Linked DNA regions of Homo sapiens: region 2 is linked to region 1. Evidence: fine-mapped expression QTL. A gene starts in region 1. The other region holds a variant in brackets. All regions are shown on one strand. Distances are from middle to middle. Region 1 holds the start of PDE6H (phosphodiesterase 6H). Region 2 overlaps LINC01489 (long intergenic non-protein coding RNA 1489).

The links. PIP is the estimated chance that this variant, and not a neighbour inherited with it, causes the effect. A credible set is the group of variants that fine-mapping cannot tell apart.
Region 2: its variant is the best candidate, but not a certain one, in a credible set for the expression of PDE6H in whole blood (INTERVAL, PIP 0.73).

What each region holds. Positions count from the first base shown.
Region 1 is chr12:14,964,615-14,980,051 of GRCh38, forward strand. PDE6H (phosphodiesterase 6H) reads left to right here and starts at 8,428. Exons shown (of 4, transcript NM_006205.3): 1 at 8,428-8,472; 2 at 13,358-13,532; 3 at 14,565-14,605. The coding sequence starts at 13,399.
Region 2 is chr12:15,003,524-15,018,960 of GRCh38, forward strand. It overlaps LINC01489 (long intergenic non-protein coding RNA 1489), which reads left to right. Exons shown (of 4, transcript NR_120466.1): 3 at 1,577-1,683; 4 at 2,838-3,160. Among named protein-coding and RNA genes, the nearest start is that of LINC01489, 9.4 kb to the left of the region's middle. The variant T/C (reference allele first, on the strand shown) is at 8,356.

The DNA of each region.
Region 1 (15,437 bases):
CTCCACTTTCGGTGAATAACCTGCTGACAGCTTCTTACCTCCTCCTTGTTTAGCACCCTAGCCTACCATCATTGTGCCTCTGCTGGACTTTCATAGCATTCTCTTTATATGTTTTCTATTTCCATAATAGTCTGATTTAACCTTTATTCTCATAACAGACTAAAAAGCATACTCATAATCACATCTTTCCTTCGTTTTCAGACCTCTAGGGATCTTTCATCCACTTAAAATAAAATAGAATTCTATTTTCACCTATATCTGCAAATTGGCTTATTGTAGTAGCCATCTTCCAAGACAGCCTCCAGTGATTCTGGTATTCAACCCTGATCACATTGTATCAAGATTGTTCTGTGTGGCCAATAGAATATGGCAGAAATGATGGCATGTCGCTTCCAAGGTTGTTAGACATTGTGTCTTTTCTCTTGATTTCTCTTAGATCATTCATTCTGTGGGAAGCAGGGCACCATGTCATAAGGACACTCAAGCCCCCTGTGGAGTGGTCCATGTGGTGAGGACCAAAAGCTGTCTGAGTGGACCATCCTGGAAATGAAGGTTTCAGCTCCAGATGATGACAGCTCTGGCTGACAGCATGACTGTAACCTCATGGAAGATGTGAGCAGGAACCACCCAGCTATGCCGCTCCTGATTGACCCATAGAAACTGTGGGAGATAAGAAATATCTATTGTTATGGGCTACTAAATTTTGGGGTAATTTGTCATGTAGCACTATAATTCTAACATACTCATGATCTAGCCACTTGCTAGATCCTCCAGACTCATCTGGTAACGCTTAGCCCTTGTTTCCTCCATTCCAGATCATGCCCCTCTTGCTAATCTTTTAATGAGAAACAGGTTCCCATTTTAGGGATCATTCTCTTTGCAGAAATGTTCTTCCTTTAAATAATCATACCTGATTCATTTCTTTCTTTATTCAGATCTCTGCTCATATGTCAATTTCTCAGAGAGGTCTTTTTTAACCATTATATTTAAAATAGTGCCTCTATTTCATCATTTTGCTTTATTTCTAGCATGTAACATCCCTTGACATATTTCCCATGTATTATTTTTTCTGTTTGTTATCCACGTCTCCACAAGACTGTGAGCTCTATAAGGTCAGGGACCTTGTCTTATTCACTGCTGTATCCCAGAGACTAGAGCACTGACTGAAAACATAGTATACTGTCAATAAATACCAGCAGAATTAATGAGAAAGGCCCACATACTAGGAAACCTCAGTATTTAGAAAAGATGAAGTGAGAGATGCCTACAAAGGAAGAAAAGGAGGAATGGCTTGAGAGGGGAGTATAGGAAAAGGGGAAACAGCTCTGCCTGCTGAGTCAAGTCACCTATATTGCAGCTTTGAAGAAATATTTATCTGATTGCCACTATGTTGAAGTTGCTATGCATCCTTCTTATGAATTTTTGAATAACAAATTTATTTAAATTTACACTTTGAAATACTTATAGGTTTACAGAAAATTGAAATGTTCACTCTCTCTCCGCCAATGTCACCATCTTGCATAAATATGTATAATATCAACCCAGGAAACTGACATTGATACAATTCACAGAGCCTGCTCCTATTTCTCCAGTTACATATGCACTCGTGTGTGTGTGTGTGTGTGTGTGTCTGTGTGTGTGTGTGTAATTCTATGCAATTTTATTGCATGTGAAGCTTCTTCTAACTACCACCACAATGAAGTTACAGAACTCTGCCATCTCTGTGAGGCTTACTTGTTCTACCCTTCTGTAGCCACACCCACCTCCTCACACCCATCCCTAACACCTGGTGACCACTAAATTGTTCACCCTCTCTATAAATTTTTTAATTTTAAAAATATTAAATAAATGGATGATAGACTAGATAAACAAAATGTGGTACATATACACCATGGAATACTATGAAGCCATAACAAAGAACATAAAAAAGCCTTAAAAAAGGAGATCATGTCCTTTGCAGGGACATAGATGGAGCTGGAGGCCCTTATCCTTAGCAAACTAATGCAGAAACAGAAAACCAAATACTGTATATTCTCACTTATAAGTGGGAGCTCAGTGATGAGAACACATGGATGCACAGAGGGAAACAACACGCACTGAGGCCTATTGGAGAATGGAGGGTGGGAAGAGGGAGAAGATCAGGAAAAATTACTCATGGATATTAGGCTTTATACCTGGGTGATGAAATAATGTGTACAACAAACCCCCGTCTACCTATGTAACAAACCTGCACACGTACCCCTGAACTTAAAATAAAAAATTTTAAAAAGAATATTATGTAAACGGAATCATACGTACATTTGTAATTGGCTTTTTTCCTTTAGCATAATTTCCTTGAGGTTCATACCAGTTGTTGTAGGTATCAATAACTTCATTTCCTTTTACGGCTGAGCAGTATTTTCATGGTATAAAAGTACCACAGTTTGTGTAACTATTCACTCATTATAGGAAATTTGGATAGTTTCCAGTTTGGGGCTAGTATGAATAAAGCTGCTATAAACACTTGTGGACACAAGTTTTCACTTCACTGGATGAACACCCAAAAGTGCAATTGCTAGGTTGCATGGTAAATCCATGTTTATTTTTAGGAAAACTGGCCAAATGGTTTTCCACAGTGGCTGTTCCATTTTACACTCCCACTCACAATGCACAAGTGATCCAGCTTCTCCTATATCTGTGCAATCATTTAGTGTTACACTATGTTTTTTTTTAATCATTATCATAGGTGTGTGGTGATTTCTCATTGTGGTTTTAATTTGCATTTCCCTAATGGATGATTATGGTGAATATATTTTTGTGTGCTTGTAATCTACATATCCTCGTCAGTGAAATGTTTACACGTATTTCTTGTTCATTTTCTAATTGAATTGGTTGCCTTTTTAATCTCAAGTTTTGAGAGTTCTTTACATTTTTGAGGTACAAATCCCTTGTTGGGTATAGGATTTTCAAATACCATCTTCCAATTTGTAATTTGTCTTTCAATTCCCCCATCAGAGTTTCTCACAGAGCAAATATTTTTAATTTTAATGAGGTCAAATTTATCCATTTTTACTGTTATGGATTGTGTTTTCACTGGCAAGTGTAAGAACTTTTCACTTAGTCCAAGGGCCTGGAGATTTTCTCTCATATTTTTAAATTAAAGTTTCATAGTTTTACATGTTATATTTTAGTCTGTGATTCATTTGAGTTAATTTCCGTACTAGGTGTGAGGTTTTTGGGGTGCATAATATGTGAGGTTTAAGATTCTTTCTCTCCTCTTCCTTCTCCTCCTTCTCTTTCTCCTTCTCCTCTTGGTTTATGGATACCCATAGACAAAGTGTCCATGCTTTCCAGCACCACTTGTTGAACAGACCATCCCTCTCCCATTGAATTGCTTTTGTCTCTTTGGTCAAAAATTAATTGGGCATATTTGTGTAGGTCTATATCTGAGTTTTCTACTCTGTTTCACTGATGTGTAGGTTTTCATAGCTTCTTTATGAGAATCCTATTCTAGTAGAATTCCTAGTTCTATTCCTAGTTTGCTGAGAGTTTTTATCATTAATGGGTTTTGGATTTTGTTAATCATATTTTCATCAATTGATGTGATCATATGATTTTCTTTTTTAGCTTGTTAATATAATGGATTATGTTGATTAATTTTTGAATATTTAATAAGCCTTGCAAGCTGGAATAAATCCCACTTGACTGTAGTGTATTATTCTTTTTATACATTGCTGTATTTAATTTGATAATATTTTGTTAAGAATTTTTGCATCTAAATTTATGAGAGATACTGGTCTGTAATTTCCTTTTTAAATTTCTTTGTGTGGTTTTGGTGTCAGGATAAAATAGGCCTCACGAAATGAGTTGGGAAGTGTTTCCTCTTATCTGTTTTCTGGAAAAGAATATTGTGTTTTTAATTCATAAGTTTTTTTCCAAGATTAATGTTGTTCTGGAGAATCAAACGTAGGGTATTTAGGGAAAGAGGGGCCAGGCTTGTACATTCCTTTTTCACGTTTAGTGTGTTCCCCTCTGGAGTCCACTATGCATTAGTCAGAGTGGAAAGTTCAGTCTAGGAGATTCCAAATGTGGAGGAAATGTGACTTTAATGTGTCTTCCCACTCACTGGTATTTTAAGAAGCACTAAAGAAAGATTAGAGATTAGCGCTTGCATAAGCAGCTAAAGGACAGCTAAATTTTTAATTACTTTCTAATTACTTAGTACCTGCACTCTACTTTCCAATATATAATTAATAACACTTTTCCATCTGTCAGAAGGGATCAAGAACCAGAAGTTATAGAGCTATGGAATACAGATTTAAGAAAATAATTTTATTATATTTAGTCATAAAATTTGCATACAGTAGAGCTTACTCCTTGTGATGGACATATGGGTTTTGACAAATGCATCGAGTTGTATATCTACCACTATGATCAGGATTCCAAATAATTCCATCACCGCTCCTAAAATTTCTTGGATTTTCTCTTTGGAGTCAACTTCTCCACTCAATCACGGTCCCAAGCACCCAGTGATCTATTCTCCAATCCTACAGTTTTGCCTTGCCAGAATGTCAAAAATGAAGTCAAACAGTACACTGCCTTTTGACTGTGGATTTTTTCATTTAGCAAAATGTTTCTGTGATTTATTTATGTTATTGAATGTATCAATAGCGAGGTTCCCATTAGCTTTATTTCTTGTTTCTGTGAAAGCTTAGAGTGTTCAATACGCCAAAGTTATTTTGGAGGAATTCCTTTGAGATTGGTCATTTTGCTTATAGCCATATAGCCCGATTACCTGGTTGATAAGATGAGAGACAAACTGACCAGAAATCAGCCATCACTAGACTAGGCAATGAACTATGAAGGGATCTGGTAAAACTACTCCATCCAACAGAGGTGATGTGTATTGATTGTTGCTTGCCCAGCCTACACCAATCCCCTGAGAGTCAGTAGGAGTCAGAGTAGCAGAGACAGGAAGAGCAGCCACTTCAAACAGGGAACAGTGGGTGAATCCTTGATCCAAGATGATGACCAGACCCTTAGAACCTCATAGTGCCTTGAACGATGTTTCGTTCTCCACCAAGCCTTGCTGAAGGTGGTTGAGTTTCTTATCTTCCATTTTTCTTTTCAGATAGACTAAAATTCTTTCTTTTATCATTTATTTTTTGTTTCAAAAAGTTTCCTTAGCCATCTTTTTAGAGTAGGTCTTCTGATTATAGATTCTCTTAGTCTTCCTTTGTTTGAGGATGTCATTATTTCCCCTTATTCCGAAGAAGGATAAATTCACATGACATAGAAGTGAGGGTTGACAGTTCTTTTTCTCAGGACATGAAAAATGTGCCATATCCTTCTAGTCCCCCTGGTTTCTAATGGGAAATCTGCTGTCAGTTGAGTTATTTTTCTTACAGATAAGGTGTTGCTTCTCTTTCACTGCTTTCTACTTTTTTTCTTTGTCTTTAGTTTTCTGAAGTTTAGCCATGGTGTATTTTGGTGTAGATTTCTTTGAGTTTATCCCACTGGGTTTTCCCACCTTCTTGATGTTACACAATTACGTCCTGCACTACATTTGGAACATTTTTAGCCATTATTTCTTCAAGTACTTTTTAAGCTTCATCTCTTTTCTCCTTTCCTTCTGAGATGCTGATGACATAAATATTAGGTCCTTTAGTCTCACAGATCTGTAAGGTTCTATTCATTTTTTTTGTGGGGGGGTGGGTTTATTTTCTGTCTTTTGTTCAGATTGGGTAATTTCTATTTTTCTGTCTTCAAGTTCACTGATTCTTTCTTCTTTATTCTCCATTCTGTTTTTGAGCCTATCCATTAAGTTTTTTATGTTGGTTATTCTATTTTTCAGTTCTAAAATCTTTATTTCATGCTTTTTTACATGCTGTGTTATTTCTGAATGGAGATGAAATTTCCCACTTGGGCTTCTTTGATACCGCTCTGGTAGGGAGAAGAAGGTGGCCTCGTTATGACTGGTTGGAGGTGAAAGTCCAAGATCCCAATGTGGCTTTCTCTGATGCTACTCAGCTAGGGTGGGAGAAAGAAGGTCACCCCGTTGTAGCTGAATCAAGATGAAAGTCTTGGCTCTCCACTCAGACTTTGCTGAGTCATGTCATGTTTTTTTTCCATGGTATTTGACTGGAGTAGGGCGGTTTTTGTTTAAATGTTTTTGTTCTTGCTAGTTTGCTACTCTCTTGGTCACTTGTCTAGAAAAAACAGGCTTTTGGGGAGGTTTTTTGTTTTTTCACTCCTCTTGGTGTTTTTGGGTTACTGTCTTTTCCTGCATCAACATCCGGATATACAAAAAGAAAATTCAGGAAACTTCCTGCCATATTGTTCCTCGCATCTAAAGCCTGTCTTTGGTTTTTCTTCTCTCAAATATTTTGAAATATTCCATATTTCTGTCATATATAGTATCCAGGATTTTTAGCTGTACTTAGCAAGAGGCATGAGAGGAAATGTGTCTACTTTACTTGGTCCAAAACAAGAAGGAACATAGATTTTTAAGACTGTAGAGTAATTTAAGAATTTTCTAATTCTAAACCCCTGAGAACCATATTAGAGTGGCTTTAGGAGAATTTTTCAAACTATACACCTAGACTTTCTCCACACTCCTAATCTCTCCCTCTTCTCTCTCCTGGATTTCCTTTGGAGGAAGAAGACTTATGGCACAACCACCCCCATATTCAAAAATTGAGAATCTGAGAATTGCAAGATTATCTTTCTCAAGTGTACTGGGATGGAAAAAAATTGAGAACCCCAACACTCTAAATCATTCATTTTACATATGAGGAAACTGAGACTCAGAGAGGTGACATATAGCAGATAAGTGGTAAACCCAAGCTTGCATATGGGTCTAGAACAGTACTTTTCAAACATTAATATGCAAACACATCACCTTGGACCTTGTTAAAAAGCAGATTCTGATTCGGTAAGTATGGAGCAGGGCTGAAATCCTGCATTTTTAACAAGTGCACAGATGGTGTTGCTGCTGCTGCACTTTGAGTAACAACATTCTAGAACATTCACTCAGCTTTTGGCACTTTCCACTGTCCTTAAAATTTGTATTCTTTCATCAAGAAAATGGAGAATATGTAAAAGTTTGACAGATAAGCATCTGAACATTAACGTGCCTGGTATGTAATAGTAAAGGAAGATGTGAATGGTAATGGAGATACAGAGGAGGGAGCAGAGGGACTCATCCAGAGACCAAACACTTTCCTGGCTTTGCAAGGTAATCATTGCTTTCAAAACTCAGAGGAATTTTGGTAAAGACCAGTGGAGAGCATATGAATGACTCTCAAGCTGTCTAGTTGCTCATGTAATCTGCTTAGGGCTGCAGGTTAAGAACCTCTCCCTGTCTAGAAAGGATAAATTGACCTTCTTTCTCTGTAATGTTATGGAGTGTAATTTTCTAATAGGTAACAACTGGGGAAAGAACATTGAAATTCACTGGCAAGGCATGGAAGTGACCAGCAAACAGACATCTTGGTCTCTGTCTGCTTTGATGTAGTGCAGCACAAAGACAATTGAATATGCAAGGTACTTCCAGATTTGGGCCCTGTTCCTGGCTCCACTATTAATTTTATTTGCAGTCTTGAATAGGTCACTTAATCTTTCTATGATAAATTTATCAAAAGAGCTTACTGATAACTACCATATGGGTTGAGATCTATTTAAAATACAAAAAGTATTAATCTATTAATAATTAATACTAGTGGATCAATAAAATAGGAAGACTGAGTCAAGGAGTCTCAGTAAATTGGATTGTACCCTAGACCCTACACCCTGAAACATTTAGGTACGGAAGATCCAGCAATCGATTCTCAAATAAGTGTCCTCAGTTAACAATTCCTAGCTGTCATTTGGGCCCTTTCTGTGTCAGATATCAGTTTTGACTCTGAGGTTCCATCTCTCTGAGGAAATTCGCACAATACCAGTTAGGGAGACATACTGTGTGTTTCCCAATGTCACTGCCCGCATGTTCAATGTCCCTGTATAGCAGGAGGCACTGTGGCTCCCTCTCTTCTCTCCAGTTATCTAGAGCCCCATAAGAATTATGTCACTGTGTATATGTGTGTGTGTGATTGCGCACATAGGTGTGTGTTTGTCAGAGAAAGGGAAGAAATGGGGGTATTGAAATCTAAAGGTAAGAATAAAAAAAAGACAGAAGATATTGAATCACAAACTGAAATTTACCCTTGGATATCAACACTTTTTGTGTTTTTGTGAATACAATACCTATTTATTGACTGGAATGAACCCAAGTCAGTTTTGAAAGGGCCTCTAATTATTGGAAAACTCCTAAGCCTGTCCCAGCATCAACCCATGTTCTCCTAACTTCTTTGCACCTGGGTTGCTGTTCTGAGCTTATGACGGTGAGATTAGGCAGCATGAGGGTATTACAGAGAGATAAGTCAGGATGCAAAGATCCTTTTGTCTTTTGCAAAGAAGGCAGCTGGGCAGCTGATAGGAACAACATTCAGCTCCGTGAGTACTTCTGAACTTCTGGTGAATTTGAGCAGGATAATTGAAGGGCTTTGGGGGGTTGATCAGGTTCCAAAAGAAAAATTGCAGAAGAAAACATGTTGGACCTGTGGGCCTGGGCTGTGGCTGGGGATGAAAATGGGAAAGAACATGAAGGAGATACATGCAGACCTTCTTGTTATGCCATGGGACAAGCAAATAAGTGAAACTTGATTATTACAAGGTCACTGCAAAACTTGATTACTGAATTCATTTAGAAGGAGCCCAATAGTGACCTCCCTGTTTGCAGCTTCATAGTAAACAGTTTTCTGAAGAAGGAGGAATCTGTGGCACTAAATAACCACAGAGAAAACAGTTCTTTACTCCCAGGATGTGCCTGCAAACTTGGCCCAGGATGGTGTGAGTGTGAGGAAAAGGAGAAGGGGAGCTGAGAGCATGAGAATGACCACAGGGCAGGGCAGGTGGCTGAGCCTTCTCCCTTTGAGGTCAAGTGTTTGTTCCATTCTGAAGCAGGGTGCTGGCTGGAATTTTGGTAATTTTTTTTTTATGGCTTTGGTTTGGGTCTTGCTTTGCTTTTCAAATTATTGATTTTCTCTGCCTCAGCAGGACCCTGGGTGATATTTATGGGCTCAACCCCAGCAGTACTTCCCTTCCCAGCTCCTTCCTGCCTCTTTCTTTGTCCACCAACAATGGACTGGTCTACCTGTCTATAGCTTTGCTGAGAAAAAGAGAACTGGAAGTGTAAGGTGATAACAGCAGCATCAGAGAGCTGTCTCAGGAACCTCCTAAAACTGCTTTTCAGAGGATCATCCTCTGTCACTATATAGAGCTGGGCTTTGCTGTATAAAGAAACAGAAGATGATTTTTTGCTTTATACAAATCTTTAACTTTGTTAAGTTGACCCTAATCCCAGTCCCCTAAAAAAGTATGCCTTGAAATATTACTTTGCTGCATCCACTTATTTCTGCAGAAAAACAGTTTGTAATCTTCAAAAGGGGAAGGGCTAACATTGCTTTAAATACAGGAAAATGTTCTGGCTCACAAAAGAATAAATTGCCTAATGCTTTTGGAGGAAAAAATATGAAACTTCTTTCAGCTAAAATCAAGTCTGATAATACATTTAAGGTTACTCAGCTCCAGATGCCCTTAGAATTTCTAGAAAGGTGTGGTCAGCATGAGGTTAGCCTTTGGTGATGTTTATGGACAACAGGACTGGCTTCCAATGCAGGAAAAGGTCAGAGGTGTTCTACCCTTCCTAAAGGTTTTGCAGAGAGAATTGGAGGGTAAATCTATGACAGAAACTGCATAGGGATTAGTCGACTGTTCCGGTTACCTAGTGCAAATCCTGAGCACCATTAGGATCAAGGGATTAACCTGGCAACTGTTATGTAACTCTTTCTGAGGAGGCTTCTTTCATATAATGCATCATACTCAGACATGAACACTTTCTAAGCCTAGAGGTGTAACTTCAAAATTATGTAAAAATGCAAAAGAAACTTGCAAGAAAAAAGGGGATGTATCATTGGGGAATATGGATGTCACGTGTGATTTTTAAATTCTTCGGGGTTGCTGTTGGGGTGTCAAAGGAATTCAAGGAAAGCTTCTTAAGACAGAATTTTAAGACCAGAAATAAGTTAACAGTCGGGGTGTTTGAAGGAAGCAGAGAATTACCCAGCGAGGGCAGATGATAATTGCCCCTCTGGTGTATGGCAAGGGCCCTTCAGCAGTTGGCCCAGAGGAAGGAGGTGCAGAGTCCAGGTGAACAAGTGTCATAACCACAGATTTGTTTGCATGGCTTTCTTTTCTCTCAGAAGGTCTAGCATATATTTGCCCTTTTTGAACACTTTGTACCACTCTACTTATATTGTCTTCCTAAAATTTCCCCATAACTCTAAAAGGAAGGTCTTGTTTGATTCATTTTATAGATGGAATAAGACCCACAGAGGATTATGAAATTTATCCTAAGTCACGTAGCCAGTTCTGTGGAGTAGGAACTTAAAACTATATCAGTTTGATTCTAAAGAGTGTACTCTCTACCGTGTTACCATCAAAGGACAATTTGACAAATGAGGGTCACTTTAGGCCCTTACATTATAGAACTCTGGATCCAACTCAATTGGATCTTATTAGGGCTGCCAGATAAAAATGAAGGATGCCAGTTCAATTTGAATTCCAGAAAAAAAATGACTTTTTAAAGTATAAATATGTACCATGAAACAGCTGAGATATACTTTACTAAAAAAAATTATTTCTTTGTAATTCAAATTGAACTGGGTGTCTTGTAATTTTTTTTTTTTTGGCTTAATCTGGCAATTCTAACCCTAATAGATTCTTTAGATGAGAGAAAAGAAACTTTTTGATTTCTTCTACCTTGAAAATCCTGGGCAGTTCAAAAACCTTGATCTGAGAGCAATTCTCTAGCTGCCCTCTGTGACTCTGGCAGGGCTGGGATGTGTCAGTTACTGGTGGTCCACTCTGAGCACAGCGCAGATCTTGGCTGCTCACCAGCTATTCCCAGGGTCCCAACCACACTTGGGACAGACACAAGGTTTGCCTGTCTACCGGGGGTAGAGAGGGCCCACAGAACGGGAACTGAATTTAGTGAGCAGAGGAACTGGCAGTGCATTTCCTAAAGCCTGAAAGCTAATGACTTCTCTGTGCTCTGATGGAGAAGTCAAAGGGTCAGGATCTCATGACCAAGGTTTACAGTATTTGTTCAATTTCTTTTGTTTTTTTTTTTTGTTTTTTTTTTTTGGAGACGGGGTCTTGCCCTGTCGCCCAGGCTGGAGTGCAGTGGCACAATCTCAGCTCACTGCAAACTCCACCTCCTGGGTTCACACCATTCTCCTGCCTCAGCCTCCCAAGTAGCTGGGACTACAGGTGCCCGCCACCACACCTGGCTAATCTTTTGTATTTTTAGTAGAGATGGGGTTTCACCGTGTTAGCCAGGATGGTCTTGATCTCCTGACCTCGTGATCCGCCCGCCTCGGCCTCCCAAAGTGCTGGGATTACAGGCGTGAGCCACCGTGCCTGGCCTGTTCAATTTCTAAATTAATTTATTAACTCATTTGACAAATATAATATATATGGCATGATTACTGTACACCATGCACTGTTGTAGGTTCTGAGACTGGAAGGACAGCCTCATGAAGCTAGTCCAGTAGGGGATAAAGGAAGGAATCACAGCATGAGCAGGTGGTCCAGGGTCCTGGCCAATCTCACCATCCCTGGTACTGGCAAGGGTAATAATTTAGTAATAATCAGAATTTAAATAAGAGAAAAATCTTGGAGGCGAGGATAATAATTGCAACCCAATTGTCAAGGAAATAAGAAAACAGTATGGACTGGAAGTTATAGAATATGAGGTTTCAGGAATATGCAGTGTGGCCAGTAAAGAGAGTCATTGTTAGCACGAGCCAAAGACTGTCAGGGAGGTTTGCAGTTAACAGTATTAGCATAGGCTGGTGTGATGGGTCATGCCTGTAAACCTAGCACTTCGGGAGGCTGAGGCGGGAGGGTCACTTGAGCCCAGGAGTTTGAGGCTGTAGTGAGCTATGATTGCAATTGCACCACTGCACTACAGCCTGGCTGATGGAGCAAGAACTTGTCTCTCTTAAAAAAAAAGAAAAAAGAATATTAGCATAAATCTGCAATGGGTGAAATAAGGAATCTTATGGAGACAAAGCCCCCACACACTAGTTTTTATAGAGGAGACTGTCTCAGGGTAAGAGGCAAAAGCAATTTGGAGTTCTCTGGGGCTTTTCAGGATCTTCCTTCCAAGAGCAAGTTTTGTTAACTCTTACGAAAGAAAGGAAGAAAGAAAATAACGTCATCCAAAATGACACATTAATTGCTTAAATTTATCTTTTTCAATAATTTTCTTTGATTTGTATTTGAAGAATGGCAATGTGCATTTCTGTAGCCAAATTAAAGTCTGAGAACACCATATTGGATAGGTCCGTGGTGTGGATAGAAGAAGGCATTGAAGATTTGTGAAAAGTGGGGGCTGAAGAACCTTATGTCTCGACGTAGAGTTGAAGCACAAACGTATTACTTAATTATCCTTCATTAACTTCTGTATGTGCGTGTGTATTAAGATGTGTTGAATATATTCATGGGTGTTGGTATTCCTGCTTCAGAGGTCCTCCTGTCCAGACAACTACACTGTCATCTCCCAGAACTAAGAGAGAAGTTTCTGGTTCATGTGAGGATTAAACAAAATAATCCTATCTTAAACTATAAGGACATGAAGGACTATAAAAAAACAGAGGCCATAAAAAATGCTCAATAAACATTTAGAGTCAGGTTATTTTACAGCTGGATGGAAGAATATGTAAAGCTTAAAGAAATTGCAGATGCTGTAAAAGACTATAGATATCACTGAGTCCATTTTCCTCTCTTCGTAACTGACAGAACTGGTAGTCACAGAGAAGTACAGCATCATAATAAATTCACGTAGAATGCTTGTGGCAAATCTATTTTATTTATTTATTTTTAAATTTTAATTTGTTATACCTAATGTGAAGCTTTAATTTAATTTATTTATTTAAAAATTGTTTTCAGTGGCAGATCCATGGGAACAGCATAGCTACCTAGATTTCTGAGTTTTAAAATCTATCAATTGTCCGTTTACACAACTGATAGATTGTGTAAGTAATGTAGCAGAAGGTAAGTTTCCATTCCATTCCATTAAGTGCCTGCATTGATTTATACTCTGTTTTCTTAAAGATCCCTTTTAAAGATGATAACTTCTCCCCTTTTGTGTCAACACAAAATACTGAGCTTTCTTGTTGAAGTACTTTTCTTCTCCAGCCTGAAATAAAGATCTAATAACCAATGGTCCCCATGACTTGAAAGATCTTCTTTTTTTTATCTTTCACTGTCTAAGGAGGCTGAAAGGGAAACATCAGCCGCCCGGGGGGAGTTAAAATGAGTGACAACACTACTCTGCCTGCTCCAGCTTCAAACCAGGGTCCTACCACCCCACGCAAAGGCCCTCCCAAGTTCAAGCAGAGGCAGACTCGCCAATTCAAGAGTAAACCTCCAAAGAAAGGTGTGAAAGGGTAAGACCAAAATGAAAAGAAAAACTTTCTATTACTTTCTTTTTCCCACAAGACTGCTTTTGTTTTGGGAAATTGGTGCTCACAATATTAAACAGACTTACAAAAATTTCCACTCCATCCTCTCTTTTCCTCTGTAACTCCATCTTTGATGAATTGTGTCTTTATCCCTGGAATTCTTTCCTTCTCAACTTCCAGGTCTGTGGCCGAATTTAACATGGCAAATAGAGGCTTTTTACAATAAACTTTGACTTTGCCTTGCAGGCTTTTGATGACCACTCCTCTTTACTGAGACAACCTCTACGTTAATCTGTAACACTGAACCACTGACCATTTCCAGAAAATATAGCTTATATTTATGTCTTCCAATTTTGTATCCTCAGTTCTTTATTTTCCTCTTCCTCTCCTTGGCAAAATCCTATTGATTTTTCAACACACAGATCATATGCTAATTTCTTTTTGAAGCTACTCCTGACTCTCTTTAACAAACTATCATTACTTTCATGTTTGCATTTTGTACATTCAGCTATCATAACTTACATTATATCTTATATTTATTTATTTGTATCTATTCTCCGAGGCTAAGACCACTCAGAAAATTTGTCTGTTTTCTTCTTAACTCTCTGTGCTTAATAAAATGCCTGGTATATAATAGATGCTTAGTTAATGATTTTGAATAAGTAAACAAATGGATGAATTCATCATTTTTAATGCCTTTTGTATTGCTTTCTCATTTCAATTTTTATTATAAAAAGTGAAACTTGACTAAGTTGTCCCACTGATGGTTCTTTCTGACTCTTAATTGTTTTAGGTTAAGTTCCTACAGGAGAGAAATATCTCTCCAGTGGGATACACCAAAACCTGCCTGAGTGACATTTTCTTTGCTCCAGTTCAGGGCAAACTAAAGGAGTTTCTCACATACAAACACTTAAACCTCTCCTTCTTCCCCCTTGAATCAAGAAACTCTCCATGTGAGTGACTCCAAAATTCTTTTGCTCTAATCTCAGCTAATTTCTCCTTTATTCTTTTCCATAGATTTGGAGATGACATTCCAGGAATGGAGGGGCTAGGAACAGGTAAGCCATCCACTGATTTAAGTGAGAACTTCGCACTTGGAGTTCTGCCTTTTTATATACTTCAGGCCTCAAGGGGCAGTTGAAAGTTATGAGAAATACCCAAGGCAGAAGATCTGTGAAGACATAGAAATGTGGGGATTTAATTTACCCTCGAAATAAGTACATGTGTGCCCAGATACAAAAGCCCTAAAAGAAATCAGGGTAGGCCCAAAATTTCATAAACCTTCTTGTTTTGTCAAACAACCTTTGAGGGCATACAATGATAAATTATAGACTTTTATGGTAGAAAGATTTTCATAATTCATCTCCCCAAACTTCATTTTTCAAGGGAGAAATCTGAGACATACAGGAATTGGCAGTCTTTTGTCTGAGGCTACCAAGTGAACTATTGGAAATAAGGGTGAGGTCTGGAGATCTCTCCACTCTACCTGGCAAACCACTTCCTTACCAATTTCCTCTTTTTACACATCCTCTAGCACCCAGAGGAGGATCTTACATACTGAATGCCTGCAATATAATTTTAAAAATTGGTTACCAGATTTTTATGTATCATACAATGAATGCAATCACTGCATATTTTTTAAATTAATAGACTTTATTTCTTAGAGGAGTTTAAGACTTACAGAAAAGTTCAGCAGAAAGTAGAGTTCCTATATGTCCTCTCTACCATCTCTCTCCCCTTTTACACAGTTTCCTCTATTATTAACATCTTGTATTAGTGTGATTATATTTGATGAGCCAATGTCGATGCAGTATGTTAATTAAACTCCATAGCTTGAATTAGAGTTTTTATCCCTTGTGTTGTAAAGTTCTAAGGGTTTTGATAAATACC
Region 2 (15,437 bases), 39 kb after region 1:
ATTGAGTGCCTCCGAGGCGCAAGACAGGATGCTAGGCACTTGATTCTTCACACACTTGTGGAGTAGGTATTATAATAAGAGCACTGATCACCAGTCTTGAGCTCATAATTAAATGCCCCACAACTAGAATGTGGTCGAGCTAGTCCTTAGTTAAATCTAGGGGTAAAGTCTGGTTGTTTTGACTTTTTTACCCTCCTTCCACCATAAAGCATAACATATTCTCACATGGAAACCTGCAGGGCAATTCCCCTGCTTTACATTAATGAGGGACAAATACGATTTGTGTCTTTTACTGTGTCTAATCTCCCACGGTTCTCACAGCTTCTTTTAAATTTATATGACTTTTCCATTTTCATAAAAAGATAGGATGCCGTTTCTTATCTTTTTGGATCAATGTTATGGTATCAGTATTGATTCTTAAAGAAGTCCTTTAGAGGTTCAGCTCTGAAGCTATTGATCATTCAAAAGTTCCTCCTTTATTTAATTTTCATGTCACTTCAGTCTTTGAAACTTTAGGTTTCACATTTCCTCTGTATGTAGCTTTCCAGTGGAAGACAGGGCTTTCTTTACTGTATTTCTAAAATTATGTAATTTGGGGGTACTTTATTTGGCAAACATGGATAGAATATTTATATGTTTGTGAACAATGTGCAATTCTTATCACAGTGTTACCTAAAATAGCTAACATAAAGAGTCTAATTTATAAATAAGAGAAATTGAAGCTTAGGGAGTTAACTGTTCAATGTAATTAAGTAGACTAACGGGTAGTAGAGCCGTGCCTCCAATCAAAGTCTATTCAAGGCCCAAAGCCTGTCCCCTAAACACTAACATCTGTCTGCCCCTCACATCCACTGTTTTCTCACCATCACTCAAAACTTGTCTCAGAGTGATGGCTTGCAGAGCACATGCCTGGTGCCCTGGTGTCCCCTGTTTGTTCACTCCAGGGCCGGTGGTACCATCTTGATGACCTCACATATCTGATCTAACTCTTTTGTAAGTGCTTATTTCTGTCACTCCAACTAGACAGGGGCTTTTCACTGTTTCATTCCAGCACTTGGCACAGTGAGTAGCACGTTGGTGTTTAACAAATATTTGTTAAGGAAATGGATGCATGATTCTGGGCTTGCCAAACATATGCTCAACTTTGCCTTCTGTGCCTACAACTACCTGGAGGAATTTCTGTCTGCTTCAACTACCAACAAATCTCTCTAAACAAGCAAATGGTGGTTGTCAAGTTGGTAATGGATATTTGTTGTTGATTAAGGTGATAAACTGAGGTAGAGAAATAACTTCTCTGATGATGTATAGGAGCAAAGAGAAATGCTCTTGAGTGGATACTTTTATAATTTTACATTTTACTGGGATTTTATTGGCTGTCTTATTTTGTTGCAAATGGCATAAACCCAACTCACACTAGCTTAGCAAAATGTATAGTTGTAACTTTGCAAGATGGAATATAGAGCCGGCTTCAGATCCTAATGTATCCCAGAGCCAAACAACCTTGTTTTGGTCTCTCTTTGTGTGTCCCTCCTTCTCTCTTTATTTACATGTGTTTCATACTGGGTTCATTTTGCAGAAAGGCTGTCACCATTTGACCAAAAGGGAGGACCAGGACAGAAGGACCATAAGTCAATGGTTTTCTTTAGTGTGCTGCCAGCAGAATCAGAATCACCTGGAAGCTGGGTGAGAATGCAAATTCTTGAGCCCTATCCAAGACCTACTGAATCAGAAACTCTGACACTAGGAACTAGGACTCTGTGTTTTCATAAGCCTTCCAGGTGGTTGTTGTGTACACTACAATTTGAGACCTGCTTGACTAAGGGTAGGAATTGAGTCCTCAAATAAATGGGCTTCATCAAGTGGCTTTCATGTACAGAAGTAGAAGAACATGGGAGACATTAATAGCTCAAAATGAGGGATTATATGTGTTTGGAATTCCTCTGACATGCAAGGCACTCACTTGAGTGCCTAATTAATCTACCTTAATTATACTCTTATCCCTATTTTGAGAGATCTTCAAAAAGAAATGGATTTGGAGGAGGTTTAGTAATATATGATATTTATTAAATTTTACCTTTAAGACTGTCAGAGAGAAACTGGAGGATGCTGGGGTCTTTGTTCCATCAGAGAAAAGCATTTGGCTTCAAAATCTCACATTTCCACTACAACTTTGGGAACTCTGTAACTTCCCAGTTTTATTCTTTAGCACCAATCTTTTCTTCTACAGTGATTAATAGTAAAATTGTTGAATGAAAAATTGTTAGTTAGTGTGGGGAGATAGCATAAAGAGGAAAAGGCTGGGGAGAACTGCAATCCACTTTGAAGCCAGCCTTGAGAAATAGGAATCTCCACAGATGAAAAGGGAAGTCACGGCTCAGAGGAGGGGGCACACTGCCTGTGTTCCTTGTGCCTCCAGGAATAGAGGGGCCCCAGGGACTACAAAGAATCCCCAGGGACCTCAGTTTCTTCAGAAGTAGTAGCAAGTCACTTCAGAATGTTATGCATTATCTGTCTTTTCAGATTTTAATCATCTTTATGTTTGCTTGGTCCTCAGTTAAAAAAAAATATTTCCCACATAGGACTAATGGAATTGTCTTTCTGGGGTCATAGAGACAAGGTTGTCAGAATATCTCTTCAAGACAATAGTGTCAGTGACCACAGCTTGGCAATTCCTGAGCTAGATATAAAGGTAGCAAGAACAGCACTATTCACAATAGCAAAGACACGGAATCAGCCTAAATGCTTATCAGTGATAGACTGGATAAAGAAAATGGTGTGGATATACACCGTAGAATACTGTGCAGCCGTAAAAAGGAATGAAATCATGTCTTTTGCAGGGACATGGATGGACTTGGAAGCCATTATCCTCAGGAAACTCATGCAAGAACAGAAAACCAACCACTGCATGTTCTCACTTATAAGTGGGAGCTGAATGATGAGAACATATGGATGCATCAGGGGGAACAAGACACACTGGGGCCTGTTGGGGCATGGGAGGAGGAAGAGCATCAGGAATAATAGCTAATGGATTCTGCGCTTAAAACCTAGGTGATGGGTTGATCTATGCAGCAAACCACCAGGGCACACATTCACCTATGTAACAAACCTGTACAGCCTGCACAGGTACCCCTGAACTTAAAATTAAAGTTGAAGTAAAAATAAAAAGAAAAAGTCTGTGAACCCTTTAACCCCTGACCAAAGGGAAAAAGAATAAAAGAAGGTAGCAAAAATTAGAGGAGAGCTGACTCATAATTCTAAATGATGTAAGAATTCAAAACTAAACAATCCTAATAATTATTCTAAATAAAATAATTCTAAATAATAAGTGTAGTAACATAATAATAGCAAATATTTATTGATCTCTTATGATGTCCTACGTCCTGTTTTAGTCACTTTAATTGTATTAACTTGCTTAATCTTTATAACTTCCATCCATTTTATAAATAAAAAAACTGGCACAAATTGTCCAAATGAAATAGTTTTTTTTTTAATATAAACCCAAGAAGTTCTGTCCTCAGAGCTCGTACAGTTTATCATTACCTAAGACTACCTGCCTCTTGAGAAAAAGTGAATCTCTTCAGTTAAACTATGCAGATATTTGCTAATATTTGCTACTGTGCTTGTTCGTTTTGGGAAGGCGATTCCACATAATTTTGTCAGAACTCCTTTGTATGAAGATAGAATCCAGCCACCATCCTATCCTCATCATGACACTGTCATTACAACTAAGACATCAGAGTGGACATTCCCCTCTTTTCAAGAAACATTTTTGTCTACTGACTCTATGTGGAAGTCAAAGAGCTAACTATGCTTTATGTTCTTCATTTCATTTCCTGAAACTTTGATGTGCAGGTTAAAGACTGTTTCTATCTGAACTGTTTTATGGGAAAAGCTAGCTTGAACCTAACTACATGAACCTCTGGAGGCTGGGTAACCTGACTTTTTCACAAAGCAACTGATATTCGCATGTTGGGTTTTATTTTTAATTTGTCATGGTTCTTGGAGACTGCTCTGAATGTTCAATTATATTTTTAATTTCACTGCTGGCTTATTAGCTGATTAACTGAGCTGTTCTCATCTGAGCAGTATTAGGGTTTAGTAAGATCTTACATCATTCTACAGGAATCAATTTATAAACTTTGTTTACTTCAAGATTCTGGCTGACACATTAATTTAGCAGCAACAGAATTACAGATAGCGTTACAAAAAAGCTATTAGCTATTCTCTTAGAGATAATATTTATAAATGGAACGTAATTACAGCCTGGAAGCACACAGTTTCCAGAGCTAAAGGCAATAAAGCTACAGCAATAAAGAATTTACTATTAGCTCTCCTGGGACAAAGAGGGCTCCAGTGGAATGGGAAAGAGGTTGGGGTGAGGTATAGAGCTGGGAAGGCGAAAAAAGAAGGAAGAGAATGGGATCACAGGAGAGGCTCAGCTCTTCTAAACAGTAGTTATATTCCAGGCTGTTCTAAGAAGGCAGAGACTAGTGCCCGGGGAGACCAAGTCTCTGCTTCTACTATGGAAGATTTTTAAAAGTTGTTTCCAACCCGATGGAAACTTTCTCATGGGAATGGTTTGCTCACTGATATTTTCCCAAAAGATCTTTTCTCTTATTTTCCCACATCACTGGGTTTTTTAAAAAAATGTAATGACCGTTATCCCAAACAACTAGATAATATACAGCCTTTGTCCTTTAAGAGCAAATTTGGGTCTGTAAATATTTATTGAGCAGCTACTGTATACAAGATACTTTACTACGTATTTTGAGAGATACCAAGATAAATAAGATGTGATCCCTGCCCTTAAGAGGCACAAGATTTAGAAGGTGAGAGAAGATATGTAATACTGCAAGTACCAATACTAGCTACTCTATACCAGGCGTTACTCTCAATGCGTTGGCTATACTAACTCACCTAACCCTCATAGTAACTCTGCAAGACGATGTCATCATTATTTTCATTTAATAGATGAAGAAATTGAGGTGAGCAATATTATATAACTTGGCAAATGTTACATGCTATAAATAAGTTGAAAATCGAGACAGTGGGAGGCGAACTATTTGACTTAAAGTCGTAGAGTAAATCAAAGTCAGCCTCGGCTATAATTCAGTTGAAGTCTCCTGACTCCCAGCACAAGGCTCTGTTTATTAAATTGTGAAGTATTTTTTTGTTTTTTCCTTAATAATGAATGGGACTAGGAGTGATTTCAGCACTTCATGTAAGACTCCTACTTGCTTGTTCTGAGAAAGTAATCAACTTCAAGTCAAACTTTGTTTTTTTTAAAGAGCCTTGAAAGTATTCACTAAGAGTTTTATGAAACTTTAAGCAAAGAATTGTTTGTACAAATACCATTTTAAAATAATTTTCTGACTGGAGCTGATATAAATGTACATTTATTGTTGACTTTAGGAAGGCTTTCATATGAATATCACTTTTTGAAGTTTATTTTTAAAAATTCATTCATTTATCTAAAGTGTATGTTTTGTATTAATATATCAGAATCAAAGTTCATTAAAGTTTTTATTATGAAAATTGGTTTTATTTATATAAAATATCTAACATGTAATTTAAGAGAAATATTAAGCTAATTTTTAAAAACTCCTCCAAGTATGTTAATTTTCCAAATGCTTTTTAGGAAATCAGCGAGGCTTATTACCTGAGCCCTTAGACAAAAGTGGATGGTCTCTTCAATACTTGTGACCTTTTCTCTTCACCTTGTCTGTTTTTCCCTCAGTCCCTGGATTACTACTTTTGTCCTCTAACCGCTTGAAATGCCTTCTCCTATGCCTTTAGCAGCCACTGAAAGTTCACTATTTTCTGTCTTATTTTCTTAAATTATATGTCTGTTAGAGTGTTTGAGGAGATAACTACATAAATGCACCAGGAATAATGGGTGTGTTAGTTTCCTAGAAATGCCATAACGAAGTACCCAAAACTGGGTGGTTTCGACAACAGAAATATATTTATTCTCTCACAGTCCAGGAAGGTGGAAGTCCAAAGTCAAGGTGTCAGCAGGGCTGTGCTCCTCTGATGGCTCTAGGGGAAGAATACTTCCTTGCCTATTTCAGCTTCTAGTGGCTCTTGGCAATTGTTTGCATTTCTTAGCTTGTAACTGCATCACTCCAATCTTTGTCTCTGTCATCACAGGGCTTTCTCCCCTCTAACTCCCGTATGTCTCTGTGTCTGCATCTCCCTCTCCCTTCTCTTATAAAAACACTAGTCATTGGATTTAGGGCCCATTTTAATCCAGCAAAACCTCATCTTAACTAATTACCTCTGCAAAGACCCAGCTGCCAAAAAAGATCACATTCAGAGGTTCCTGGAGAACAGGAATTTGGGGAGATACTCTTCAGCCCAGTACAATGTGTTAATAAGAGAAGGCAGGAGGGAAAGCTTGATCATTTGAACAAATGTTGGTTTATTTTAAGAGAAGTTGTATGGTTCCATGTGGCTAGAATTACTACATCTTCTATTTTGCCATAGTTTTAGCCTTACTTTATAGCTGATTGGAAAAGTCCAGTGACTTCCTTAGGTCTGACTCTATCTCTAAAAAGCCATGCTGACAGATGCCCATTTTACTTGATACAAGATGGAGTATTACCATTGGTCAGGTGAATTCATCAACTTCACTAATCATCTTCCTAAAGAGCAGACAGTATTAAGCATGTCTTGAAAAAAAAACTGCCAAAAAGAAGAACAGAAAGCAAATTGAGCATCGGGAAAAGACTTGGGTCTATAGCGTCAGACAAAACTAAGTTCAATATATACTTAAATAATAATGAGTCTACTAGGTAGACTCATCTAATAGTGCTGCCATGTACTAGTTTACTAATCATAGGATTGTTACTCATGCTCTCTCAGCAGCAGTTTCAGGGTAATTAAATCTACATCAAAGGTTATTTTTAGGATTAAAGAAAGACACAGTCGATATTCAAAAAACATCTACATTAATAACGATAATAATACAGCTGCAAAAAAAGAGTAAGAGGGCTGCAAAAAGAGATGGCATCTAAAATACATTTCTATCTTTACATATTTTTGAAGAAATTTGATCCCATACTCTGAATTCAAGGTGGCGGATGGTGGACTACCTTTGGATGCTGAAACAAGATGTCAGTATTCACTGAGGTGGCAAACCCCCCAGACTCCTCATCCCCTGTAAGCTGTGATTCAGCAGACCTTCATCCTAGCTGTGGCAAAGTGTGGTGTTGAGCCTGCCAGTTCCTGGACCAGGCCTAGCTTTGCCCTCACATGGCACAGATCCCACACTCTGGCCCTCTCTTTTCCCACAACAATTTTGATTTGTAGGCAGGATAATCATAAAAGTTCAAAGGAAATGAGAAATTGCTACTTAGAAGAATAAGATGATGTGTGGAAGGTAGAAAATTTCTAAGTAGCCATCCAACCCAGCTGGGTAGGATCTGACCGTCAGGTTGGTTGGTTGGTTTTTTACCACCAGATGTTAGGTCAGCTTCTTGCTCAGTGCCTCTCAGTCACTTATCTTAGTCCCTGGCTTCCAAACTAGAGGACCTGGGTCATCATTGGAATTTGCCATAGCTTAGGTCTGGGCCTGGCTAAGTCCACAAAAATCTAGTACAGCATCAGAGAAACTTCTGCTAAATAGTTATTCCACACCCAGTTTTGGTTTCTGTAGTTCAGGTCTCTGGTCTTCTGTTATAGGCTCCTTGGTAGATCTCTTGCCTCTCCTGTTCTTGGCCACACATGAAGAACACCACCATCACCACTAGCCTAGCCCACAGGCTCTGGCCCTGACATTGGCTTGTGCTTTAGAGTGCTCAGGCCATGCTGTCTTTTTAACAAATGTTCACTAGGGGCAGTACTCTGAAAGGTTTAAAGCCACTGTGTACATTTCTACTAGGTAGACTCATCTAATCTCTAAATAGTAATTTATTACAAAGGCAACTTGCATACTTTCACATGAAGTTCTTATTTGATTATGTTAATTAGACTTTCAGGACAAAACAGGTCACAATACTTATTTCACACTCACCAGGTCTAGAATATTTTACTGGGATCTGTGGGAAGGTAAAATAGATGTAGCTTCTGCTTTGTGGAGGTCAAAATTGTACTTTATTTTTCTTGAATACCCCTCCCTCAACCTTCCATTTTGAAAACAATCAAGAAAAATGTCCTGTCACATAGTTCTCTCTACTCCCTTTATCTTTCTTTGAAATATCGACTATTCTTCTGCTAACAGCAAAATATTTTCCAAGCATAACAATAAATTTTTCCTTGCCAAAGGAAAACAAGGCCAACCATTGGAAGAGACCCCAAGACTAAGTTACAGCTAATATAGCACCGAACCCCTCTTTTCTCAGCGTGATCTTTAAG[T/C]TTTGGACTTTGAATGAAAGACCAAGGGGAAATTGTTTTATGTTTTATATACTACACTAGTTATATGTTTCATATATAACTACTGGTCCGGATAGCATGTTATCTAAGAAAAAGAACTTCTATCACCTTTAAATACTTGAAAATAATTTCCAGCTGTCTCTCTTCCTCTGATAGTCATAAACACAGACACACACAGACACACACACACACACACACACACACACACACACACAGAGAGAGAGAGAGAGAGAGAGCGAGAGACAGAGAGACAGAGAGACAGAAAGAGAGAGCTTTACCACAATTGATTATGGAAAAAATCACAATTGATTATGGAAAGAAGAAATGCTAGGAGAGCTCAGGCCCATTTATCTCAGTAGATGAACAAGATTGTAACTGCTATTATGTCCTCAGAACTTCATATAGTTCTGGTCCTGCAGTACTAAAAGGAAGGAAAAGAAGTGATGTAAGTACACGTAATGTTCTTGTTAACATAAAAAAGCAGTAAGAGAGAAAAGATAAAAATATAGTGCCTCAGCAGCTGGAAAGTGCCCAAGTGGAGTGTAGAAAAGTGTCCAGTGAAAAACAAGGGACCAGAAAGTAAATGAAGAGGGGTGCTTGGATTCAGCTAAGTGGGACAGAAAGGATTTCTTTAGGTTGAGAGAATTGGAGTTGGAAAGTAAGAAGTCTAAGGAAAATGTTCTTTCAAAAAACATGTTAGAATTAAGTGATTATAACTCACTCAAAATATCACAAATATATGTCATGAACATGGAAGTGGTTGGGAGGACAAAGGGTCAAAGGACTTCTTTGTTCTTTGAGTGGGTCCCACATGATTGAAGAGGAGGAACCAAGAACAGAATTGATGATGTTACAGATGGAAGGAAGGAAGTTTGTAGCTGAGAGCAAATTGTTCTTTGTCCTTGAGATAAAATGAAAATTTGCTCTACTGGTTAAAAATTTACATGACACACATCCCAGAATGAATGTAAAAATGTTTTTGACAGAAGGAATGGAATTAGAAGGTCCACGACTCCAATTGAACTAGATAGAGCAGATCAGGCGTCTCACATTTGCACTCACATCTCTGACATGTGTTACCCACCATGGGATACTACATCAAAAATATTTAGTGTATTTTATTCTTAAGTCTGTTTTCCACACATAATGATCTTATGTTATTGCTTGGGACACATTTGCTCCGAGCTCACGTCTCGAAGCAGGAGTCCCATTGTGGGGCATACTCATACCAAACCTTCAGTGATTCTGAGAAGAACTCTGTGCTCACGTTCTCTTTTCTGCCTTCCTCTCACAGCAAGTCTTAGTTATATTGCCACAAAGCAGTTTACGTGACTTTACTGTGTCAAGAATGATCAGTTAACACACTCAAAGTAGGCTATTGTCTCTGTGACCTGACTAATGGGCCCACCCCACACTTTCGTACATGCCAGTTTGAAACCTACTATCTTCTTCAACCACCATGATGATAGAAAGTCTTGGCATTGGTTACTCCTTTCGGGAAATGCTGGTAATAAACATTGTAGGATGGATTATTGTTCTAAGCCAAGGTTTCTCAACCTTGACATTGGAGGCACTATCGACATTAGGCACGAAGTATTTCTACTTAGTATTTGGGGGGCTGTCCTGTGCATTGCAGGATGGCAGCCAGCATCTCTGGCTTCCACCCAATATGTGCCAGTAGCATAAAATGTCTCCAGACACTGCCAAATGTCCCCCAGGGAGAAAAACTGCCCTGATTGAGAACCACTGCAGTAAACTATTATCTCCCATCAGCTCCTTATAAATTGAACTTGCAGCAGTCTAGCAAGGCATTGAGAGAACGAGAGGTGTCTGAAGCTCAGGAAAATCTGCAGCTCAGAGAGCATCAGAAAATGGCTAGAAAGGGTAGGTCTGAACTGACTGTCACAGGGCAGGGACTTTCAGAGAGTCACAAGGAGATTGGATGAGGAAAAGACAGACAGGGATGAGGGGCATAAAGAAAGGCAACTGAAAAGAAGAAGAAATATTGAGAGCAATATGGCCTTCACTATAGGGCTTTCCTAGAAAACCAGAGGGGGAATCCATAACGGGCAGTCAGAAAACCAAGGTTCTGGTTTCAATTTCACTCTCCTGTTAGTTTTTAGATCACTTATGCTTGGTTTCCTTACCTATAAAACGTGGCTATGTTTCCAGACCTGATTATCTCAGATTGCTATATTAAGGCAATAATGGGAACATTCTCTGTAGATGTGTTTATAAAAGCGTCAAGAATTGCTATTTTTGTGCAGTTGTGCCTCACATATAAGTCAGATGGCTGAGAGGAAGTAACTCAAAATTACTGGGGGCCTGAGGATAGAGAGTCTGCTCGTGGCCAGAGTGGCCTCATGCAGTTTGTTGAAAACCCAGGTCATGCTTCCTCACCTAACCCTGGATGCCTGGGCATCAGGAGCAGTTATGAGGGGTATCCAGGAGTATAAAGTAATATCTGAGTAGATGGGAGAGTGAAATTCAACTGTTAGCATTTTTCATACCAAGGAATTTTTATTAATCTCAATTTACACTTGTGGGGTTTCCAAAAGTGGAGATCTCAGTAAATCTTAGCAATAGGCCATGGTATAGTCTGTACTGCTTGAGTTCTACGGTGGAAAGGAGAATACCTGCCTACCAAAAACTTAGAAAAATATTTTAGGTAAACTGGATACAGAATAATTATGGATTTTTTTTCTCATATTCCATATGGAGAGCTGATAAAATCATCCTCAAAGCATTTTTCTTTTAAATTTAAGACTCAGGTTATCTAGCAAACAAGATGGAAACAAGTGAAAATACCAGTTTGGAAACTAAAGCAAAAAGATCCTTTGGAAATTCCTAAAACTGTTTTGAGGATCAGTTCAAGTTTGAAAGAAAGATTTAGTGCTTATTTTTTTCAACTCTTATAAAAATGACTAAACACATTCGTCCTCTGAAGTAGACTCCAGACTTTTGCACCTGGCCAAAAGGAAGAAACACTTCAGCTCAGATCAACCCAGTTTTTACTGGAATACTTGCGGCAGAACTGAGAAGTGCAGGTATAAGCACAATGACTGGATTATTCCCATCTTCTGCTTATTTAAGAAGTTAGGCATTATTCTTTCTCATTTGCAGACTTTCTGTTTACTAAACTACAAATAAAAGTGTGCAGAGATATGCTTCAGGTTTCCTATTTCTGAAATGCTGTTGGAGATTGCAATTGTACTAAGTTGGAAATTGAGAACTTAATTATTTTAAAATCTAGTCAAGTGAGAGGGAACTATCAACTGCAGAGATACCAGAGTTTTTTGACATTGTTCCTGGCCTTTGGGGATGAAGTCTAACACTCCCCTTTTACAGTTCTCCCTCTCTTCATTCCCTAAAACCAGAGAGCTGAACCTATTTGCAAAACATTGTTACTTCAGGCATCTCATGGGGGATGATTAATAAGTAACCATGGTTAAATGATACAAGGAATAAAATAGCTAGTTGCCAGAAAGACAAAGGTGACCTGGAGAACATCAGAAGATTTTGAGGAAAATAAGGGCTCTAAACAGACGTTATATATTTGCTTTGTTTCTGTCAAATGCTAGGATCTCAATCAATGCATCCCCAGAACAGTTCAGAGAGTAGAGCTGTGGTAGCATCTGATGATGGGTCTTATTGCAAAATGGGCTATCCACTCTCAAAGTTAGTGGGTTCCTTACCACAAAATAATTTCTAATGAGAAGAATGATTTCTGCCATGTTAAGGAAACTTGCAAAATAGATGGGTAAGCCCTCACAACTCCTACTTACCTGGAAATTATATGATTTATATGTGTTGTTGGATTATTAGAACTTTTTGAGAAAAACACTGAAACCATGTTTTAAAAACAGGTAGGTTCATTTTATAGGCTACAACATGGATGAATCTTGAGGACATTATGCTAAATGAAATAAGCTAGTCACAAAAAGACAAACACTGTATAAACCCACTTAAATGAGGTATCAAACTCATAGAAACATAAAGTAGAATGGTGGTTGCCAGGGGCTGGGTGAAGGGTCAAATGAGCTGCTGCTCAATGGGTATAGAGTTTGAGTTTTGCAAGATGAAAACGTTCTGGATATCTATTGTACAATAATAGGAATAAACTTAATGCCAATCAGCGGTGCACGTACAAATGGTTAAGATGGTAAATTTTATGTTTGTGATTTTCAACACAATTAAAAATTTTTAAAGTATTTTAAAGTGTATACTATTTGCTAAATAAAAGAACTTTGTTTAAAAACCCTGGCAAGACGAACTGAGTAGAATCATGGAACACAGAGGGTATAGCTGAGTGAGTGTGATTGTAATTAGTAGACTGTTAGTCTTCCACGCAACCTCACAGATCGGAGAATGAGAATCACTAAGAATCACATTGAGGAGAAAGAACAGCACTTCCTCTGCTCATTTTCTGTGACGTGACCTAGAAAAAGATTTATCATGCAATAATCCAATAGATATTTACGGAACATGTAGGAAGGGGCCAATAATTATGCTAGGTGGGGATTCAGCAATGAATGCATTTCACACCTCAGTCTATTGTAAATTCCCCTGCTGAGGCTTTCAGCAACCTTCTAGTTACTAAATTCACTAGAAGCGTGTTTTACAGAGCCACACTGATTATTTCCTCCACTTAAAACTTTCTTCTTTATTGGCTTACATATCACTCTCCCTGATGTTTATTTTCCTACTTAAGCTGCTTACTCTGCCTTATCCATAAATACTGGTTGGTATTTTTCAGGGTTTCATCTTAGGTCCCCTTTTTCTCAACACATAGTAAATCCTATCAATGAGCTAATGGCCCCAAATCTTATCTTTAGCTCAAACTTCTTTTTCTGGGCCCCAGAATGCTATATCTTATAAATTACTAGATAGCTTTGTTTGAATGTTCCAAATGCAACATGTTTAAGACTCAACTAATTCTCTTTTCCTGATGTTCTTCTATTTTAAACACACTATATTAGAAAAGGACATTGTCATTAAATTAATTGCCCAAGTCAGAAACTGGAAGTTGTTCTGTATTTCTTCCTCTACCCTATCCTCATCTAGAATGAGTCAACATGGCCTGTTCATTTTATTTCCTTAACACTTCTTAAAAATGACCCCGCCTCTCCTTCATCCTTTCTGTCCCTTCTTGAGTTCTCGTTTGATGGCCTCATTTAAGTTATTTCAATAGACTCCTTATTAGTTTCTGTACAACTAGCTTTGCCTTCCCTTAATGCATCTGATACATTGCTATCAGAATAGTCTTAACACGCAAATATGATTCTATTGTTTTCTTTGTGCAAAATTCTTTAGTGGCTCCTGGTTACCTGTAAGATAAACTCTTCACACTTTTTCAGTGTCTTGGATTTTCCCTTGTCCCTCTTTTCAAGCACCATCTCCTACTTATATTACCTTTGCATCCTATTCTTAAGCAAAATTCAACTCCTTAGTGTGAGAACACACAGGCTTGCTTTTGTTTCTGTACTATTTCCTTTGATTGGAGTATTTTCCTGCAAACTGTCCTGTGAGCCCTTTTATAAAAGAGAATGTACTTTTCAGAGCATAGTCTTTTTTTGTAGGTGGTTCATGACTATGGTTTTATTATTTTGTTGATTTTAAAAGTACACATGGTCTGGACAGACATCTCACCAAAGAAGATGTACAGATGGGAAATAAGCATATAAAAAGATGCTCAACATCATAGCTCATTAGGTAATTGCAAATTAAAATAACGATGAGATACCACTACATATCACTTTAGAATGGCTAAAATCCTAAACATAAAATGCTGGATGAGGATGTGAAGTAATAGCCACTCTCATTCATTGTTGGCGGGTCTGAAAAATAGCACAGCCACTTTGGTAGACAGTTTGGCGGTTTCTCCCAAAGCTAACCTTACTCTTACCATATGTAAGAGTAATCCATCAATCACACTCACAGCTATTTACCCAATTGGGTTGTAAACTTATGTCCACACAAAAACCTGCATATGAGTGTTTATAGCAGCTTTATTCATTACTATAGTTGGATGCTTGTCCCTATCCAAATCTCTGTTGAATTGTAATGCTAATGGTGGTGGCCGGTGGGAGGTGTTTGGGTCATGGGGGCGGATTCCCTATGGCTTGGTGGTATCTTTATAATAGTGAGTGAGTTCCCACAGCACCTGGTCATTTAAAAGTGTTTGAGACCTTCCCCTCTACTCTCTCTCTCTCTCTCTCCTGCTACATGATTGAAAGTTCCCTGAGGCTTCACTAGAAGCTAAACAGATGCTGGCACCATGCTTGCTGTAAAGCCTAAGGAACTGTGAGCCAATAAATCCTCTTTTCTTTATAAATTACCCAGTCTCAGGTATTTCTCTATAGCAATGCAAGAATGGCCTAATACACTCATAATTGGCAAAACTTGGAAGCAACTCAGATATCTTTATAAAGGTGTGTAGATAAACTATGGTACATTCACATAGTTGAATATTATTCAGTGATAAAAAGAAACAAGATATCAAGCTATGAAAAGACATGGGGAAACTTAAATGCATATTGTTATGTGGAAAAAGCTAATCAGAAAAAAGCTACATACTGTGTGAATCCACTTATATGATATTCTGAACAAGGCCAAACTTTGGAGACAGTAAAATGATCAGTGGTTGCCAGGGTTTTGGGAGAGAGAGGGAGGAGAAGAGAGATGAATAGGTAGAACACAGGAGAACTTTAGGGCAGTGAAACTATTTTGTATGATGCTTTAATGCTGGATACATGTAATTTTACATGTGTCAAATTCCACAGAATGTACAAAACAAAGAGTGAACCCTAATACAAACTGTAAGCTTTAGTTAATAATAAGTTATGAATACTGGCTCATCAACTGTAACAAGTGTACTATACAAATGCAAGATGTTGATAATAGGGGAAATTAAGGGGTGGGAGGGCTGATAGGTCATGTGAATGCTCTAAACTTTAGGCTCAATTTTTCTGTGACCCTTAAACCTATTAAAAAGTAAGTTTTATTAATGATATATTTTAAGAGTATACTTCAAATCCTGAAAACTGGCAAGAAATTAGTGTACT